2 separate regions of the Homo sapiens genome follow, and region 2 is linked to region 1. The links come from fine-mapping of genetic effects on gene expression. Tissue or cell type: whole blood. Region 1 holds a variant in brackets; the other region holds the start of a gene. All regions are shown on one strand. Distances are from middle to middle.

Region 1 (8,349 bases):
TATATTAGTTAGTGTACAGACTTCTTTTGAGAAGAAAATAAACACAGGTGGACACTAAATCAATTCCAGATCATGGTTGTCAAAATACAGTCTGTATACACTTAGGTTAAAAACAAATAACATATTTTTGACAAAAAGTAAAATGCATTCCTTAAAAACAATGTGGTGTAAACTATCTCTTATAAAGATTCTTTAGAAAGTGATTAGTTGGAAGATAAATAAAATATTTACTCCTTAAATACCTGCTTCAAAATAACATTTTAATTTGTGGTTATAATGTTGACTTTTTGATAAGGTTGACAAATATGTCTAACTTTATTTGTGCAATTATTTATAACAAATGAACACTCTTCATCAACCAGCGAGCAGTTAATGTGGCCGTAGAATATTCGTAAGTTGGAAAAATAATGAATATCAGAACTGAGTCTATACTATGTTGAAACAAGCAAAAAGCATAAGAAAAATGCCAAAAAGTGAAGCTGTTACTTCATTTTTATTTTAAAACTTGTATATATAATGCCTCAAAGAGGATTGTGACAGGGGTTTTAAATGCAAATAGACAAAAATATAAAGTGAAAACAGGTTGGGCATGGAGGCTCGTGCGTATAATCTCAGTATTTTGGGAAGCTAAGGCAGAAGGATCACTTGAGCCCAGGAATTCGTGACCAGCCTGGGCCACACAGCATGGTGGTATGTGCCTCTGATCCCAGCTACTTGGGAGGCTGAGGTGGGAGGATTGCTTGAGCCTGGGAAGTCGAGGCTGCAGTGAGCCGTGATAGTGCCACTGCACTCCAGCCTGGGCTACAGATGAGACATTGTCTAAAAAAAAAAAAAAAGAAAGTGAAAACAAAAAAATTGTTGCTAAAAAAGCAACACTCTCTCTCTCGATATATATATATTATATATAGATATCTATATATAGATACCTATATTATATATATAATATATATAATATATATTATATATAAGATATATATTATATAAATAATAAATAATAAATATAATATATATTATATATAATATAGATATCTATATATAATATATGTAGAGAGAGAGAGAGACAGTGATTAGTTAGAAGATAAATAAGAAAATACTTACTATATATATATATAGAGAGAGAGAGGTAAAGCCTCTTTTTAAAATAAATATTTCATTCATGGACATTTGGCTTAATTAGTAAAGGTTCCTGGAGAGAATTTAAGTTGTCTTTCCACTTTAAAATTGGACCTATGCACACAGATGCAGGCATATGCTGATAAAGCATATAAGAAAAACAATGACTAGAAGCTTCAGAGCTGACACCTATCTAGACTTCATTCTTTCTGTCCTTCATTCATCCATTTATTCATCTCAACTCTCCAAGTTAGAAAAAAAGAACAATCACTAGATAGTAAAGAAAATGACTGAGAAGGAAGAGAATTACAATACTTAAGTCATGGATAGGAGCTTAAGTTGGAAATCTAAGTGTAAGGATTATTTTGAGGTGGTGCAGCTCAGTGTCACTAAGGCTCTTTTATAACTTACTCACTGAGGGATATGGGTCAGGCAGTCAAGGCAAGGGGGCTCCAATAAACTCAAAGAGGGAAGTTAGATGAAAGAGCCAGACACATCCAACATAGATAAAGAGAGATAACTCCCCTCCACTTCATCATAGCGAGTGTTCACTTACTCATTCTGTGGCCTAACAAACCTTTACTTAGGGCCTTTTATGTGCCAGGTGCTATCATAGGAGCTTGGAATACAAAGGTGAAAAGACAGAAGCCCTAAAGTCAGAGAGGAGAGAGAAACATTCCAAGTAACAACTGCAATACACATAATCATTGTTAAAGACAATGGTTGAAGGGCCCAGATACAAGGTGCAATCCAAATAGAGGATAAGGCAGGAGAATTGCTTGAACCAGGGATACCAAGGTTGCAGTGAGCCGAAATTGTGCCACTGCACTCCAGCCTGGGTGACAGAACGAGATCCTGTCTTTGAAAAAAAAAAAAGAAAAAGAATGCCCAAGTCTGCCTGGGTGAGTCAGAGAGGGCTTCATAGGAGAAACACCAGCAATGGCTCAGTTAACAGATGAATAGGACTTAACCTGCTGGATACTCAGAGGAAGGGCATGGAAGCAGCTGTTTTCCTGTCATGTTTGCAGGAGTATGTGTAGTTCAGCACTGCCAAGACATAAAGAACAGGGCTGGAACATATTTGAGAATGGGAGGCAGCAAGGAAACAAATCCTAAAAGTCAGTGTTGGGAGATAAAGCTGTATGTGTTGGAAACAGTCCTTGCCAGATGCTCTTTGATCCTCAAGTCTAGGTAAGTGTTTTTGACCACCTGCATCAGAATCCTCTAGTACTTCACTGTCCAAAGTTTGTTTTGTGGACCAGCAGCATTAGTTTCACCTAGGAGCTTGTTAGAACTCAGTGTCTCAGGCCCACTTCCAGTCCTGTTGAATCACATTCTGCATTTTAATAAGACCCCCAGGTGATTTGTAGGCTTATTTAAGTTTGAGAAACACTACTCTAGGGTACTTGTTAGACATGAAGATAACTGAGAAGGTCTCATCTAGTAAATCACAATCTTTGGGTTGAGGGCGAGGTTCCCTAGGAGATTATGATGCAGAGTAAATTCGAGACCACTATGGGCAATGGGAAGCCATGGAAAGGAGAGTGACATCCTCAAATTCTCCTATCAGAAAAGGAAGGGATGCACTAAGGATGATTTGGGAATGTTGGTGACACCATCAAGAGAGAAGGGAGGTATCAACTGCCAGGAGGGATTTCATCACACAACTAGGACTATGAGCCATGCCAAAGCTTTGAAGTGGAATGAGCGGTGGAGTCCAGAATTTCAGCAGATCTGCAAACTCCAAGATGTGGTAGGCAGGAGGGAAGGACAGTGACATATTTGGAAGTGGCTGAGCTTGGACTAAAGTTTTATTCCAAGTTTCTCATGTTTGTGACTGATGTTTCTCATTTGAATCACAATACCAGTGTGAGTAGGGCAAATGTATATTGTCCTTAAGTCATGGCATTAGAAAGAATGACTTGGAACAAATATTGATTCCTTAAAATGCTTTCCTTTGGTAACTAGAAGAACTTCCTGAAGAAAAGACCTATTTTGTTGAAACCTGTATGTGGGTTTCATGAACTTGAGCAAAACAGAGTCATATTGCACTTATGGAAATGTGTGAAAACCAATTCTCATCAGTTTAAATGAAGTATCATTGAAAAGTAGAGTCTGAATATTAGGTATGATGAAAAAGTAGAGCACAGTTTATAAGCAGATGTAGTAAGCCTGTTATCTGTCAGGAAGCAGGCTATATTCTCATGGATATCCAGTGTGCCATCTTCTCTACTAAAATGCTAACAAAAAATTAGTTTCTACCTGCCTTTCTGTACTTAATCAGTGGTGTTGCATTACCAAACTACAGTTTTGTTCTGTTTTTCTATCCTGCACCTTAGTCTTTCAAGTTGTTGAGTTTTCAGGTCAGCTTAATAATTCTGTCAGAAGCAAAGGACCCACAGCTGCCACAAAAGTCTCAGTGGAAACTGGTCTTACAAAGTATTCTCATGAGTTTAGATGACTCTCATCTAAACTTCTCAAGCAGTTAGACTTTCTCAAGTAGTAGACTAGGTAGAAAAGAAAGTAATTGAGATGAGAGAGAGTGTTAAAACCCGCATGTTCTGAATAGGGAGGTCAGTCAGATCTAGAAATGTGGGCTATTTTGAGGGGATGCAGATAAGCGACACGCAAACTCTCTTACATCTCAATCATCAGTGACATGTGCCACTGGAGGAGGACACAGCAGTCTGGAGGAGGGCATAGAGCCTTCTGATTTCCTAGCACTCAGACTTGCTGGCACAGGTCTCTGAGCACTGTCCAGGCTCTGCCAATCTCTGCAGCCTGGGTGCTTAGTGCACAGCTACCGAAAGGAACCTTGGGTATGAAGGGAATAAGCTTTTATTCTGGAGTTTCCCGTACGCTCAGTTATTTTATTTTACTTTACTTTATTTATTATTATTATTTTTTGAGACAGAGTCTTGCTCTGTCGCCCAGGCTGGAGTGCAGTGGCCTGATCTCAGCTCACTGCAAGCTCCGCCTCCCGGGTTCACG[C/T]CATTCTCCTGCCTCAGCCTCCAGAGTAGCTGGGACTACAGGCGCCTGCCACCACGCCCGGTAATTTTTTTTTTTTTTTTTGTATTTTTAGTAGAGATGGGGTTTCACCGTGGTCTTGATCTCCTGATCTCGTGATCCACCCGCCTCAGCCTCCCAAAGTGCTGGGATTACAGGCGTGAGCCACCGCGCCCGGCCCCCGTACCCTCAGTTTTTATCCATCTTATTTATAGACTTCATATAACTTTTAAAATAGTTTAATATTTTGTAGATAACACCCGACTAGATGAGAAATTACACTATTAAATATATTCAACCTTCCTCACAAAGCTTTCTTACAGAAAGGCTTTCAGATCAAGCACATTCATTGCAATTATTCTTCGCTCATCTGTAAATATTTCAACTACCTATTCTTTTTTTTTTTTTTTTTTTTTTTTTTTTGAGACGGAGTCTCGCTCTGTCGCCCAGGCCGGACTGCGGACTGCAGTGGCGCAATCTCGGCTCACTGCAAGCTCCGCTTCCCGGGTTCACACCATTCTCCTGTCTCAGCCTCCCGAGTAGCTGGGACTACAGGCGCCCGCCACCGCGCCCGGCTAATTTTTTGTATTTTTAGTAGAGACGGGGTTTCACCTTGTTAGCCAGGATGGTCTCGATCTCCTGACCTCATGATCCACCCGCCTCGGCCTCCCAAAGTGCTGGGATTACAGGCGTGAGCCACCGCGCCCGGCCTCAACTATCTATTCTTAACTACCAACTTCAAGATCTGCAAAACGGTTCAGTAAAAATGAGTAAGGTTATGAAAACAGTCATAAACAGGGTAGGGCCAGGAAAGGTAGTAATTATACTCCTGAAGCTTTAGATTATAGCTAATTATGGTAGAAATACAAAATCAAAGCTTTAATGCCAGAGTTCAAACACAATTGCCTAATTAAAACTGAGTTATGTATTGACTGATCGTGATAAGATACGGCAAAAAAAAAATGCATTTAGGAAGGCCTTCACAATTGTATGTGAAGAGTGGATAATTTTGGCACTTCTATAAACTGCTGGTGGGTGTGCACCTTAGAGAAGCCTTGATTGAGGAATTACATGTTTGGGAATCTACCATTCAGAATTCAGAATTACTTGAACGTGAGTGTGAGAATAATGTATATGAGAATATTTATTTCAATCCTGTTTTTCCCATGGAAGGTTGGATTCAAATTGAAAATCCATTAAAAGGAACTTGATTGAAAAAAATTAAGGTTCATGAGACACTATGCAGCCTTTAAATAAAATGAAGGAAAAGGGGATGCAACTGCACTAATCATATAGTATAATCTCACTGTTGGAAAAAACAACAACACGTACACATATATATCAATGTCAATATACACATAATAATGTCTGGAAGAATATGTTCCAAGTAAATAGTAGAGCTCAGTATTGGGGACGACAATGAGTGGCACAGAAGATTGACATGTTAGCTTATACGCCTACATAATTCTGTTAAATTTTAAAAATAGTAGTTATGTATTACTTTCACAATTAAAATTACAAACACATTTTTTTCAAAATAAATATTTTAAATTCTAGGTCCTTAACTTAGTAACTGACAAATTAAGTAAAAGCCTCAGAATTAAAGTTTTACATACCTGCAACTTCTAATTGGCTTCTAGGAAAGAACATATGAAATCTACTTTTCATGCCAATCAAGTTCTGCCCCTCCCACGCACAAGGGGGAATTTGTGCTGGGTGTGAATTGACATATTTCACTTGCTAACACTGAAGCATTTGGCTTTGATTAGAATCCAACTTAAATATTTACTTTATATTCACAAAATAATGAGAAATGAAATGACACTCTGGAGATTAAAATGCATATTCTTGAACAGAGAGGGGGAGGATTATAACACATGACTGAATACAATCACTGGATTTAAAAAACACAGAACAATTCCTGTTGAATTAAAGCCCCACATACCAGTTCCCTAACTAAAGCTATAGGGGGAAAATCATAGCCAAAGCTTTTTCCATAAATACAGGATAGGGACCTAACTAGTTCCATTATAGAAAAAAGGCATATTTTTAAAATATTTTTTTCAGTAGAGGAGTAAGTGGAGATATGCTATCATACTTTAGAACTTGAAGTACTTTCAAGGAAAAACAGAGGATAACACAATATTCCTTAATGACAATAGGCAGGCAACATAGCAAATAAAGAAGAACCACTTAGTGTTTTTATCTTAAAAGCCCTTATAACAGTTTGCTTTGTCATCAGCTGTGGCCTACCCAGGCAAAGTTAAGTGAAAAACAAAAAATAGATATAAATGAATGATTTGTGGAAATAATTACTTTGGCCTGACATAGCTAGACATTTTAGGGAAATGGGTCTGCTACCTTAATGAAATTATCAAGATAATCTTGTGTTCTCCATTTTATCTTTTCACTTCACTGACCAGGACTGTGTGCACATAGATGAGAGTGGACCACAACTTGGCCTTTATGGTGACTGCTATTCATCATAAAGCCTCACGGCAATGGTCCATATGGGCACTTTCAGGTACTTAACCATGTGTGCACAATGCTACTATCTGACTGTGTCTGAAAGAATGGCATGATTTTCCCTGTTGGTATTTCATAACTAACAAAAGCATGTCCTGCTTTGGTACCGGAGTACCTTGCTCCTCCATAAACATATCTTGAATTTCAATTGGATTTTCCTCCCTGAACCTGAGATGGACACTATGCTAGGATAAGAAGCATGAGTTTTTTTACAATCATTGGAAAATCTGAAAGGTCGTTGTTGGAGATTATGCTCATTTTGTTCAGTTATTGCCTTGAAACCCTGTATTCTGATATTTTGTTCTCGTATAACATCTTTTGGTGTTGCTCTACCACTTTGATGAAATGGAAAATAACCACTCTTGAATATAAGAAAATGGCCTTTTTTTATGGTTTTGGTAAATTCTGAAACTGTAAGAATTAGAAGATGTTCAGGAAATGCTGATAGTTTCAATGAGGAGTTCTCAGACAAAACTCAACTCTAACTACCAAAAATGTTTTGAGCAGCCTAGACAATAAGATCGAACTTAAATAAAAGTATTATCTTAAACATTTATCTTAAAACATAAAACATTAAACCTTCCAGTATTCAGAGAAAGATAGCTCTTTCAAATGGAATAGTCTCATAATGTTCTATTTTTTCATAAAATAATAAAATTTTAAAATTTTACCTTTCCATATTTCTAATCTTTAACTATTGTTCCAACCATAAAGATGAAGAAAATAAATGAAGAGGCTATTAAACCAGGCATTTGTAAAGATGTATCTGTCCCCATTGAATCACTTGTTTTGCAAGTGACATTTACAACTCCAGAATGGTTTAGGCAGGTATGAGACAAAGTTATTTTTACATTTCAAGAAGAGAGCTTTGTAAGGTAGTAACAAAAGGCTCTGCACAATATATCATGCAGAGAATAATGAAGTTGTATTAAACATCAATTTAAAAATATATTCAAACTTGTGGAGAATTTGCTCTTGCGAAACTAATGTACTGATTGTAACAACAATTCTTCTTCTATGAACGAACTAATGAGGCCCAACTCTTTCTGGAGTGAAATACATACTTGAGCAAAATTCACGGGTAAAGATAAATCCCTTGAGATCTCGATTAATTTTTCCTTTGTGAACTCCTAATATACAACATTAATTCCAAGGTTGATATATATCAGACAATACTCTTTTTCCTTCTTAAGCAAGTAATAGGTTTGACTGATCTTAAAGAAACACTTACCACATAGCTCTTCTGTGTCAAGATTACTGAAAAGATGAAACAAAAAAAAACAGTGTTATTACTTTGGTAATATTTTTAACTACGTTTTTAAATAGTTAAATACAGTTAGTCTCCAAGCTATATTATTAATTGATGGTATGTAGTTAAGGTATTTCTCTTATAAATTCTACATTATTTAAATAGTCTTAGGTCAATTAACAATGATTATGTCAGATTCTTCGGACAAATAATTCCTGAGATTTATATTTTCCTCTGCAACATGATGGGGAAAAGAATGCATATTGGTAAAGAATGTAGGCTCTGGATCCAGAATGCCTGAGTTCAAATCCTGACTCTGCAATTTAACTTCTATATGACTCTGGCTACTTTACATCTCTGTGTCTCAATTCGTCTGACCCAAGATGAGGATAGTAATAAAAATTTCTGGTTCATGGGATGCTGTAGGGTTTAAATGAATTAATACATAAAGCACT
Region 2 (8,349 bases), 110 kb before region 1:
TTTAGGAAACGTGGAGAATTCCCTAGCTTATGTAAGGCCATGTGTTTTTTTTTTCTGGTTTCTTCCTATGTACCTGCCTAACTCCTTTATAAACTTTCCCTTCTACCTACCATCCGCCATCCACAGATCTCCTTTAACTCCCTCCTCACCAATGCAGACTTCAGTACCTGGTTTTTATTCTTATCACATGCCACTGATTTAAATGTCAATGTGAATGGCTTATCTAATACTGCAGTCTGGACTCACAGTTCTTCGTCAAGTCTAATGACCTTTATTTTCCTTTCACTTCTGGTATTCACCTCTACAGCGGCATGCTGGGTGGTTATACTCAGAACCACTCCATCTCAACTCTCACACTCAGTTATCCCACTGTCTGAAAATACACCTCTTTGAAAATATACCTCTTCTGTCCGGAAGTCTCACACTGTGAGGACTTCAGGTTTATTATTCTTTCAATTTATCATCCCTTCCTTTATTTGCCAATGAATCTCACAACCACGCAGGTAAATGCCTTTATAAATTTCTGATCTTCACCTTCAGCTGACTCCTCAACAGTGTTCACCTGTTTTCAGGTGAACATTCCCCAGAAATGCTATCTCAAAATTTGAAAGTCCTACTGCTTTCCACAGTAGACCCCTTCCACTTATACTGGATAATCTCTACTTCACCTATTCTTGCTTTTGTCCCTTCCCTTCACCTACAATCTAGATCCCATTCTCTTGTGCCTCCTCAGGCAAATCACAGTATCTTTTTATTTTTTTCCTGTATCGCTCTGGGTGCGCAAGTCAATAACTGGCATCACTATTTTCCACTTTCCACTCTCACACTCTACACTGTTAGCAGTTTTCCTTATTCTCTCAGCTATGTGTACTTTTCTTTCCTTATGGTCACTATCTACCTTTACTTATGGCTCTCAATAAACATTGCCTGGATTACTGTAAACCTCTGAACCGATTCCTCTGCCTCTCTTCTTGTCTTGCCTGATGCCTACTCTGCTTCCCAATCCATTTTTCATGTTGTCATTTAAGTAATTTTTTCCCAAATGGTCATAGAATACTATTAAACCCAAACTAAAATCCTTCAGTGTCTCTCCATATCCTTATAAAGGAGATAAAAGACACTTCATCTTTTATTAGCCTAATATCAAGCCACTACCAGGCAGTCTCTTGTATTTTGTGTTTCTGCAGTACTGAATTACTGATGTTTTATTTTATTGGCTGCTGCTCTATTCCTGTATATCTCTGGGCTTGTTCTTTCACCTGCAAGGAATACCCTTTTCTAAGTGGGTAAATGTTTTATCCTTAAAAATCCTGCTCAGGCATTACCTCCCCTGTGAACCCTTTCGTGATGTCTCTTCTCCATCCTCCTACCGTTCAACAGAAGTATGCCTTTCCATGTAGTCCTTCTTTTATTCCACGTAAACATTTCTACTACATATACTATCTTCTATTTCATATATAGGCACTATTATTAAGCTAGCGTTCTCTTCTTGCTAATTTTGCATCAGCCTTTCTCATCATATTTCAGTTTTTCTTTGTAACCTCAGTGTGTATCAGCCTTTCTCGTCGTATTTCAGTTTGTCTTTGTATCCTCAGTTTCTAGCACATAAACATAGGTCTTCAAAACCTTTGCTGAGCTGAACTGAGCTGAATGAAACTAAGTCATTATTATAGCTTTTAACACAGGGGTTTCTAACCACTGCCCTCCCCCAGACCCCAGACTGGTACTGGTCATTGGCCTGTTAGGAAACAAGCCACACAGCAGGAGGTGAGTGGCAGGTGAGTGACTGAAGCTTCATCTGCATTTACAGCCCCTCCCCATTGCTGGCATTACTGCCTGAGCTCTGCTGCCTGTCAGATCAACAGTGGCCCATAGGAGTGTGAACCCTATTGTAAACTGCACATGCGAGGGATCTAGGTCGTGTGCTCCTTATAAGAATCTAATGCCTGATGATCTGAGGTGAAACAGTTTCATCCCAAAACCATACCCCGCCCTTCCAGTCATCCACGAAACCAGCCCCTGGTGCTAACAATGTTGGGGACCACTGTTTTAACACATTCCTATAATAATTATGAGCATCTGTGTTGTGTGTTTGTTAGTGTATCCTTCATAAAATGCTTCGTAAATGTTTGAGGAATAAATGAATAAAAGGCGACTATTGGCAGGAGGTTGGCAAGGAAATCATTTGGTAAACATGAGATAATGCTACCTCTTCAGCTTTCTGAGTTGCCAGGCTTTCAGTGGCACCACCCAGATTTAACAATTAATTTACTGAGTTGAAATTGTCTGTTTGCATATCTGCACCCTCACTAAACAGCACATACCATGAGATCAAGTAACCAGTTTGTATGTGTGTGTGTGTAGTTCTAGGTACTGTGAAAGTGGAGTTAAATAAAATATGAAAATATAAGTTTAAATAAAACCTCTACTTATAAGTAGTAAGACACATTATAAATTATTATCCTTCTAACTGGGATATCTATTTCCACTGTTGCTTTTTCTCAATCCATTCTCCAATTCTTTGAGTGGCCAGAGCAGGGCAGGAAGCAGGGATGGGGGGCGGTGACCAAAGTAAATATTTACTTAGAATAAGAAAATCAGTGACAACAAATTACAGATTTTTAAAAAGATGATAAATACCACAAATATTTTAGAAATTCAGTAAAATGATATTTTAAATTAACTACCTGAACCATTGCTATGTTTTTCCTATATTTTTAGTTTTCATTTTTTTATTGCCTCATCATTTGACAGTAATTTTGTAATGCACTTTCCCTGGTGATAATGAATAATGTGGTAGTCTTTTCAAAGCAAAGTTAGTCAACATGTATTTTTTGTTATTGAAAGCTTAAAAAAGTTATTGCAGTTTCACAATTTGTTATTGGTAATAATGCCAATTTTTAGTATTGCTAAATTTGGGGAAACTCATCTTAAGGTTCTTAGGTGAACTCTGTGATTTCAGGGCACTTCAAGTTTTCTCAGGCAGTGACTAACCTTTAAGTTGCTAAAAGTCATTAACCTGTTTGTTGTCAAGTTCTTGTTGTAAAGGTATGAATTCTAGATTATCCTTGTAGATGCCAAAATTTTATGTCATTATCAATAAGATTTTGAAAAGTTTCGATATGTTTATATGGTTCATTTTTCTTCCTCAATTATCAAAAAATCAAGGAGTCTGTCTAGTCTAATTTCTCTCTTCCTCTCAATAAATTACTAATACTGATCTGAATTGGAATTCTTCCAATTTACATTTTTGTCACAATAGTTTCTACTGACTTCATACAGTGATATGCACAAAATAATTTTATTGTAAGATGTATATAAAATTATACATGCTTCATTGTTAAGTATATTCCTGAAGAAGAAAACTTCTGTTGTGACTAGATGGATGAGAACCACATCCTGCACTTAAGATTTTCTACATCTGGTGGTTGGAATATATTGATTCCACTGTGCAGACTTCTGGTGCCTCACCCCAAGGGATGCCCTTTTATCATGACCCATCTCTGACCCTGGACCCTAGGTCTCTGATGCCAGGCGAGTTGTCTCAGTGGATAGTAGGAGTGTTTCTGGAAGCCATTTCTAAACGGAGACAGCTCCAATAACTTGACTATACATGGAAGTGCTTGTGAAACTTCATACCTTCCAAAATGGTAAATCCTGATAGTGCCCCACTTAAAACCGTTCAGTGTTTGCCAGTGCATTTTCAACTGTCCTTTTGGTGCTTGGGGACGTGAGGGACTGCCACCTCCACGTCCCTCAGTACAAGCAGACAGTCCCCCTCTGGGGACACTCAAAGATAATGAAAAATTAGCAAAAGGATTGAAGGTGAAGATTAAAAAGAAATGATTCGGATGGAGTTGCCTTAATTCATTTTGTTCCTTTCAGGATGGCAGTCTGTGTGAAACGCTGTATCCCTGGTCTGAGGTAAACCAGGTCTCAAACATCTTCCTCCCTGCCAACCCGAATCCCGACACCCACTAAATGCACCAAGGGGAAAGCAGCGCCTGCCAGCAGCTCTGACGGGGGACAGGAGTAGGGTGGACTCAGTCGTCAGCACGACGGCGGCCTCCCTCACAGAGGCGGCCTCCCTCACAGACGCTGCCTGGAACCCGCCGCCAAGCCCCCAGCAGGCGGCCCGCCTGGCGCCTCCCAGTCTTCGCACAAGCAGGGCCACGGTCTGGGGCCCCCAAGGCCGTTCACGCGGGCGCGCCCCGTCGAGGGCTAGCCTGTCAGCGCCTCACTCGCGGCCTCCTACCCTAGACGACCGGCTCTGGGTGGCGCCGCTCCAACCCCACGCGCCCAGCTCGCCCGGGAAAGCGCGCGCCACCCTTTTAACGGTTCTACCCCGGCAGGGGTGCGGCTGCTCTCGAGGCTCAGCGCCCGAGGCCACGCCCCGCGCCCGCCCTGGGCCCGCCTCGTGCCCCTCGGAGCCGCCTCCCGCCCCGCCCCCCGCCCCTCGCCCCCCGCCCCTCGCCCCCCGCCGCCGCCACCGCGGTCAGCCAGCGGACCAGCGGCAGGAGCCGTTCCCCGACGGGCAGCAGGGCGCTCGGCCTCCGCGTGTGGGCTGAGCGCGGCGACGCTGCTGCCCCGAAATCCCCGTGGATTTTGAGTCGGTAAGTGGCTAGGGAGGATGAGCGACACTGGGGGACGGAAGTCGGGCCCCGTGGTGTGGAGGAGGCGGGTGGGCGCCGTCTCCCAGGCCCGACCCCGGGAAAGTTGAGGCGAGGAAGAGAAGCTCTGAGGTGGGTCGGGAAATCTCTCAGGGCCCCTTCAGTACCCTGTGGACCCTGAATGGGAGTGGGATGGGAGCGAGAGCGTCGGATGAGGGGAAAGAAAGTGTAGGGGGCCAGGGGAGCCCGACGGAGGGGCAAGTGGCCGAGACCAAAGCCATCGCCAAAAAAGGAGCTAAGTACACAGCTCCCCTTGGCTCTGCCCCAGCACCTGGTGCCAGGCGGTGGGAGGCTTTCAAGACGATTTGCCCCCTCCACCCGGTGGCACAAGGTTTTCATTGCTGGTGTTTTAGTCAAAGCTACGGAAAGGACAGTTACATGACTAAAGTAATCACAGACACCTATTACCTGGACAGCTTTAGCCCATCCGAATGTTAAATTGTGTTTTGTTTTGAGAAATCCCTCAAATAGACCAAAAAAAAAATTAAATTAGTTATAAAGAGAAGGCATGAAATGGAAGATATGTTGGAACTCTCCAAGCTTCTAGTTTTTTGATATTTTCGTTTTAATTTTTCCTTAATAGTGCAACCAGATATATGGAACGTGAAATGTCTTTCACCACTTGAGTCATAGGTGGTTTATTTCTTACTCCCCGATGTTTCCTGTATGTTTCTCTTCATCTATCATTTTGTCAGTGTGAGCAGTTTACTTACAAGCAGTATTGGGTTTCAAGGAATCCTAACTTTGTAATGTTTTGAAGTTGGAAATTGAGATGAAATTTTATCTGGTTATCATATGGGAATTATACACAAGGTAAATTCAAATATGGTCTTTTCATTTCATTATTTCACTTTATATGATCTTATTTCTCAACGGCAGCGGTAGCATCAGTACTTTCCAAAGAAGACTAGAATTTATATTGGAGTTTAAGTATAGTACTCAGCTTCTAAAAACAGTGCATAGTATATTTCATATGCTGTGATCTATGGTTAGTATGGCAGTATACCATGTCTGTAGCGTGAGGAAAGCACAGTACTCCCTAATTTATTTAGTATTCTAAGAAAAATGGTAAATTGAAGAAATGGATATTATTAGCATATACCAATTTATTCTGCATGGCCTTATAAATAAATGTTACTTTTCACATTAATTTTTAAATCTATACACGCAGTGTCCACATGTAATAAATGGACAGTCAGATATCTTTCTTTTATGTAACAAATAGGCAAGTTTTGATATAAAGGTGTGAACTTTGTAGTCAAATCCTAATATCTAGCACTTAGTAGCTATGTGGACTTGGGCATGTCTCTTATTTTTCTGAGCCTCAGGTTTCTTATCTGTGAAGTGGGACTAATAATAATTTTCTTCCACCGTTCATATATGGCTCAAAATTAAATGAAATTATATTTAGTATGTAGTAGGACCTTAAAAAGGCATCTTAATTAAAAAATAAGATTAATAAGATTTTGGCCAAAGTGGTCAATGTATCTGCTTATTATCCCATTGTATTTTAGACAATTCTAGGTTTACTGGTAATATCAGGACTGATAAGGCCTGAAGATTCATACTTAGGTAAATTTTTTAAAAAGAAAAGGAACCTAAGATATAGTTAGTATTGCCAGGTGTAGAATAGCAACTGTAAATAACTAACTGATTTACCAATATTCTATTCATACAACTTGGTCTTTAAAGATGATTTGTTAAGTGTGTGTGATCTTGAAAAAAACTATTCAGCAACCATTTCTCAGTATGTATTAATAGAAAGTTTTTTTGGAGACATTGGATCAAAATATCCTTTAAAAAACATTTATACCACAAAACTATACATTTACATTTTTAAATTTACATTTTACAACCTTATGATAGGCCCACTACTTGCTACCCAATGTTGTAGGCAGAATTCTGTTTATTTTGTAACTGTGCTTTGAATCGTTGATATGATACATGGCTACTCTAGGTAGCACCAGTAGCTTCAAGGGAAACTTTTTGATCTCTACATTCCATGGATGAAGCAGGCATTAGAGTTTAAGACTGAATTTGTTTTGTATAATGACTTTGTAGTGCAGTTAAGTCTTTATTATTTTTAACTAAACTGAGAATTAGGTTTTGGTTTATGGAGTTCTGCCTTAATTATAATCTCGTGACTCAGTTTTACAATAATAATTACTTTTTATAAATACTTAACCTTTTTCATTAATAACATGATGGTGGAATGTACTATGCATTGTAATCCCAAACTTGTCCCCTATAATGTCAGTGTTTCCCTGCAGGCATCGTTTACTTTAAAAAAAAATATTAAACAGAGTACTGAATGACACCATCTTTTCTAATTTCCTTAACTGATGTGGATTTATATACAGGGAGCCATTGCTGTATCTTTCCTACTGTAAATTGAAGGGTAGGTGGCACCAAAAGAGCTTTGATTTTTTGTTTATTTACTTGTGTTGCAAAGTCATATAATGGAGTTCTGTAATCCCCAACTCTTGAAAATCCCTAGTTTGAATACTGTGGATTTGCCTTGCTCAGCGATTGGAAAAGACTTAACAACCTACAACTAAATTTCAGCTGAGCAATGAAAAACAACGAAGTGTGTGCCAAAGTACTCTATCCTATTGTATTCTGATTCACTAGTTTCATATGGGGAACAGGATGGAAAGTTACTACATACTAGTATTAGGGTCTTAACTAAAATAGCTAGGATAAACATCAAATAAAGCAATGTATATTAGGTTGCTTTTTGGTCCTTATTTTAAATATACTCTTCTACATAGAAAATATTAATAACTTTATTTGAAGTATTTTTTCTATTTGTGCTTATAACTTTTTTTTCATCTTGTTATATCCAATTGTATTGCACAAAAAGTACAGAGAGCATTAGTTTTGCCACGTTGAAATACTAGCTAACAGACACATTACAAAGCTGGGTTGGTATTAACTTGAAGTACTTGCTGGGTTATCTCCAAATAGTAACTTTTGGGTGCTTACTTATCATTCCTAATTTTGAGAGGTTGTTTATAAGTTTATAATTTTAACATTTGAATTATACATGTCCAAAGATATTTAAAAAATAGGATAAAGCATTTCTGGGAACTTAAAGGGTTACTAACTCTATCTTATACTTGGTGAAATAGGCACTTAGACTTATGATTTGCTTAATATCATATGGTTACAATTATTTCTGGATAAGCAGGTGCAAAATCAAGTGGAGTTTTATTTTTGACTTTGTCTTGATGGGCATCAAAATTTGGAAATCTTGTGTCCCATACAGGTGTCAGATTTTAGTTGCAATGACGAGGTACTTAGCGTTTATAGAGTTTATTTAATAAATCTATGTTGCAGATACTAGAATACAAAAATAAATAAGGTCTGGTTTTTGTGGCCTCAACTAACTGATAGTCCAATAAGTAGACATGTAATATATTTACTGTGATATATTTTAGAAAAAGTGATAAAATACAGTAGGGACCAGTGAAGGAGGAATGTAAGGAAGGAGGAATTATTATTATTGTTATTATTATTTTATTATTAGAGAACTTCATGTAGACTATTTTATTTAACCTTACCTGTTGAGACAGGGGGATATTTTCCAAGGAAGTGGCAAGAGCTTGATCTTGGTCTTGACAGATAAATAGCTGTTTGGAAGAAGAGCAGCAGAGATAGTAAGGGAACTATAGACAAA

Evidence for each region. PIP is the estimated chance that this variant, and not a neighbour inherited with it, causes the effect.
Region 2: C8orf88 starts here. The variant in region 1 is fine-mapped to the expression of C8orf88 in whole blood (TOPMed, PIP above 0.99). The same link has a PIP of 0.9 or more in blood mononuclear cells.

The regions. Positions count from the first base shown.
Region 1 is chr8:90,871,681-90,880,029 of GRCh38, reverse strand. It overlaps NECAB1 (N-terminal EF-hand calcium binding protein 1), which reads right to left. Exons shown (of 13, transcript NM_022351.5): 4 at 7,877-7,902. All of the region lies in intron 2 of LOC105375634 (a long non-coding RNA gene), which reads left to right. Among named protein-coding and RNA genes, the nearest start is that of NECAB1, 84 kb to the right of the region's middle. The variant C/T (reference allele first, on the strand shown) is at 4,105.
Region 2 is chr8:90,981,378-90,989,726 of GRCh38, reverse strand. It overlaps C8orf88 (chromosome 8 open reading frame 88), which reads left to right and starts at 4,489. Exons shown (of 6, transcript NM_001190972.2): 1 at 4,489-4,613. RefSeq lists a silencer at 4,306-4,465.